2 linked regions of the Homo sapiens genome follow. The protein of the gene in region 1 purifies or fractionates together with the protein of each later gene. This does not show direct contact. Each region holds a gene or a part of one and is shown in the gene's direction. Other genes may lie near its edges.

The links. Proteins that work in one complex are often made in the same cells at the same time.
Region 2: the proteins of CEP89 (region 1) and KCTD18 purify together in Homo sapiens (affinity purification with mass spectrometry; one large-scale study listed by BioGRID and IntAct). This does not show direct contact.

The regions. Positions count from the first base shown.
Region 1 is NC_000019.10:32,875,425-32,877,958, reverse strand, and holds the end of CEP89 (centrosomal protein of 89 kDa), read left to right. Parts: 3' UTR 1-2,034; downstream 2,035-2,534. UniProt on the Homo sapiens protein: Required for ciliogenesis. Also plays a role in mitochondrial metabolism where it may modulate complex IV activity.
Region 2 is NC_000002.12:200,490,764-200,493,068, reverse strand, and holds part of KCTD18 (BTB/POZ domain-containing protein KCTD18), read left to right. Parts: intron 1-2,305.

The DNA.
Region 1 (2,534 bases):
AAAATACAAAAATTAGCTGGGCATGGTGGTGGGTGCCTGTAATCCCAGCTACTTGGGAGGCTGAGGCAGGAGAATTGCTTGAACCTGGAAGGCGGAGGTTGCAGTGAACCAAGATCACGCCATTATACCCCAGCCTGGGCAGCCTGGGCAACAAGAGCGAGACTTTGTCTCAAAAAAAAAAAATTTTTTTTTTGGTAGAGATGGGGTCTTGCTATGTTGCCCAAGCTGGTCTCAAACGTCTAGCTTCAAGCAATCCTCCTGCCTAGGCCTCCCAAAGTGTTGGGATTATAGGTATGAGCCACCGCGCCTGGTCTGGGAAGGTAATTGATTCTGGAGCCACACAGCTCCCCACCCATGTAATGAGAGCCCTGGCTTTGAGCTAAGATAGAGTCCCTGCCCCACTGCCACCACCAAGAAGCATACCAGGGGGCCATGGTTCTGTCCCATGTGTGTTAGATGACGTGCCACCTCCTCAGGAAAATTACCCCAGCCGCTCAGGACCATTCAGTCCCAGGCATGCTGGAGGGACTTGGGGACATTGGGCTACAAAGGACCCTAACTGTGGGACTCAGGGGTGGCACCCTGCAGCATCTCCTTTTCAGAGCCCCTCGCAGTGAAGTCCTGCCTTGTTTCAGGTGGGAAGGAGGCCCCAGTACTGGTCCTTGGTCATGTGTAGAAGTTCTACGTGTGATCTTTGATTGCCAGACGGAAGGGTGAGATAGAAAATCATAGTTCTTTTATGACTCTATAAGCTTGTTCAACAGTTGAATCATTGTAATTTAATTTTATTTTACAAGCGGTAGAAAGACTCACTGGGATTGAAAACTGTGTATCATCTCCCTAGGAGATGACCTAACAAATAACTGTGATGCTATTTCAAAGGCATTTACGGCCGCTCTGCAGCCTCCTGTAGACAGGCTGACAGGCGGCGGCAGCCCAGCGTGGCTGCGCGGGGCAGGAGTGCTTGTCAGCAGGAATGCTGCTCCCGCCATCGTGACCTAGAGAACCACTGTTGACATCCCTGTCTTTCTGCCTTTTATGCAAACATTTTATTCTTTTGAGAAGTGTCCACTTTTGTTCTTATGTTTCTGCTTTAAGTTTTTCACACAGTGCAAACATACTTTGCAAGTATGGGGACTCCTGGATGGCACTGTGACCAGGGCAAGGGCAGGTGTCCCACAGACACTATCTTCTGCCCAGCCTCCTGCTGGGTGCCATAGGAAATGGGCAGAGAAGCCACGAGTCCAGGATGCCAAGGAGGGCGGGGCAGGCAAGGCAGAGAGGCACCTGGGTGCTTGTGAGATTCCAGGAAAGGACAGAAACATTGGGGTGCTTCTGGGAGGAACTGGCACGCCCCGGCCCTTGCAGAGTGGACAAGGTTTCAGGAGCTACAGAAGGGTGGAGAGGGCCCCCAGGAGCACAGCAGGCACTCAGAGCAGCAGGAGGGGGTTTGGTCAGAGCTTGGGTGGGAAATGAGGCCGGACTGCACAGAGGAGAACTGGGTCTGCTGGGAGGGGCTCCTCCTTCCCCATGCTGCAAGTGTCTGGTCTGAGCAGGGAACCCTTCTCTTTCTTGGTCCTGGTGAGGTTTCATACGGCATTGGAAGATTCCTGGTCAAGCAGCTGTAGAACATGACCCAGGCACGCGAGTGAGCCTTGCTGGCTTTGCCATTATTTAAAAGCAGCCCTGGGCATGGTGATGGCGCCTATGGTTTCAGCTACTCAGGAGGCTGAGGTGGGAGGATCACTTGAGCCTGGGAGGTTGAGGCTGCAGTGAGCTATGATCATGCCACTGCACTCCAGCCTGGGCAACCAGGTGAGACCCTGCCTCAAAAATAATACAATAAAAAGTAAAAGCAGCCCTGGGGAAATGGAGACAGTGGACAAAGCAGGCTGGGGCACCAGGTGTGCATGTGGGTGTGAGTCTGTCATGAGAGCTGTCCTGAATGCCCTTAACGCCACTGAACTGTATGCTGGAAAACAGTGACAACAGTGGATTTTGTTATATAGACAATTAAAAAAGAAATAACACCCAGGCCTGCTTCCTGAGTGTTTGTGTCATTTTACTTTCCCACCACCAACCTCCGCGCAAGTTCCGGTTGCTCCGCATCCTCATCAATGCTTGGTGGTGTTGTCAATAACTGTGTTGAGAGGACAGAGATTTAAGGCCGAGGGTGGCCTAGCATTTAGCCTCGAGCGCAGCTGTCACTGGCTCCTCACCCCCTCCCCTACCTGTATCGTTGGCGGGAATGAAAGGCACAGTCCCCAGTGTGGGTGGCTCAGGAGAGCCCTCCCTGGGCCCAAGCAGCTCTTCCAGCAGGGAGGGCTTGAGCCGGATACAGATCCCACAGCAGGAGGCTGAGCCTCTTGGGATGGGGCTGGGCTGACATCTGAATTCTTGAGTAAGACTGGAAACATCATCCACTCAAAACTTGGCTGGGCGGCATGGGGAGGGCTCAGTGTGCCCAGGTTTGTGGCACCTCTCTGCTGGGTCACAGCTGGGCAGGGGTCCACAGGTAAGGAGTGGCTGCAGCC
Region 2 (2,305 bases), on another chromosome or scaffold:
TTATTAATCACCGATTTGAATATTCTGTCTTACCATCAAAATATAGATCTTGATAAATATAAAGTTACCAAAACTATGTAAAAAGTGGCTATAATTCTTTGTAACTGCATGTGTAACATGTTCTTATTGAGAGAGTGATTCTAAAATTACTAGTGGACACAGTGGGCATGCTGTGGTAAATATTTTTGCTCCACAGAAGTGGAATCCCAGGCTTTACTGGCAATAGTAAAAAAAAAATCTATTTAGACTTAATACTTGAAATTTCTTGTGGCTTATTCTGAGTTCCTTTCTGTTTCCTATTGCCACAAATAGCACTTTTATTAAATGGTATTTTCCTGTGTTCCATGAAATTATTAGCATTAAATTCACTCCACAGCTGTGTCTTTCACTGTGTTTTAAATACATTTAAAATCACATTTTTTTTACAGTGTCTGGGTTTTATTCATGGCCTTCAGATGTTCTGATTTCTTGATCACATGTTCTACAATTTAATTGAATGCCCGTATGGAATTTCAGACTACTTTCTTACATTTGCCCTCTGGGTCTTTCACTGAAATGCGGAGATGCTTATTCAGTTTTTAGTAGTTAACCATCACTTGTCAAAACAGATCTTATTTCTTAAAAGCCATAATTTTATTATCATTTATTTTACCTTTTGAGCCTACAGTTAGCAAATATATTTGAGTCAAGAGCAGTGGTTCTCAACGAGGGGTGATTTTGCCTTCCAGGGGATATTTGACAATGTTTGGCAACATTTTTAGTTGACACACTGTGGGGTGAGAGTTGCTACTGGCATTTAGAAGGTAGAGGCCAAGGGTGCTGCTAAACATCCTACAGTGCACAGGGCAGCCCCCCAGAACAAAGAATTATGTGACCAAAATGGTAATAGTGCCGAGGTTGAGAAACCTCAGTGTGGAGTCTGGTGGAAGATGTAGATGGAAAACATAGCAGGCAGGCAGGAGTGGTTTACGGAGACCCTCCTCTGTGTTAGTTATCTTTCCTCTACAAGTTTACGAAGCATTATTTTTGATGCATCAACAGGATAACGATGATGATGACTGAGAAGCACTTGTAAGGTCCCAAGGAGCCATCTGGTGACCAGGGAAAATGTTCAGTAGGGATTTAGGGTTGAATATATTATATTTGCACTCTTTGCTACAGATGGCAATTTTCAAATAACCACGTTATTATGATCCCATTTCCAAGAATGGGAGTTGAATAAGTTGTAATCGCCTCTAATGACACATTGATGCTATGCAGACTTGCAAGAGAGCAGAGTGAGAGGATTGCAGTCACCTTTCATGCTTGGGGTGGTCCTCAGGAAGTGAAGCTGAAGGAGCAGGCAAGGTTTTGACAATGATTGTTTGACGGTTTTAAGGTCATTTAAAAAAATGTTCCCCCGTAGGCTTTTTATAATGAATGGTAAACTCAGTTCTGGAATCTTTGAAGGTTTGTCCATGACTGTTCTAGCAGTCCCCAAAATGGGTTCCAAAGAATGCAAATTTTACTGGCCATCAAAGGTTTCACTATAGAATGATTGGGAAATACAGATATCTTTAGTATAGGCCTTTCATAATCTTTAATATGTTAACATGAATTTTAAAGCTTCAAGAAGAAAAAAAGATATGCAGCAGTTTATTAGTTTTGCATTGCTATAAAGGACTATCAGGCTGGGTAATTTATAAAGAAAAGAGGTTTATTTTGACTCATGGTTCTGCAGTCTGTACAAGAAGGTTAGGGCCAGCATATGCTTCTGGTGAGGCCTCAGGAAGCTTACAATCATGGCAGAAGGTGAAGGGAAGCAGATATGTCACACGGTGAGAGACAGCAAGAGATGCCAGGCTTTTAAACAGCCAGCTCCCACGTGAACGAATAGAGTGAGAACTCACTCATTACCATGGGAGAGGGCACAAAGCCATTCATGAGGGATCCTCCCCCATGACCCAAACACCTCTGTCAGGCTCCACCTCCAACATTGGGGATCACATTTCAACATGAGCTTCGGGGGGGACATGCAGCCAAACTATATCAAGCAATATTTCTAATATTTATTTGATTGTGAAATCTTTTTTTTTCTTTACTAAATCTCTTTAAACTGCAGTTCTGGGAAAAACAATTTGTGATATTTCTGGTTATCCCGTAGGTCACATCATGATACTTGGGAACAGGGTGATATATTGTATTCTTATGTAAAGTGCCAAATTTTAATTTGCTAGTATTAATATTATGTGTGTGAGTTTACATAATTCGTATTCAAATTAAGACCAATCTTTTGTAAACTTGCTTACTGACCTTGGTGGGAGAT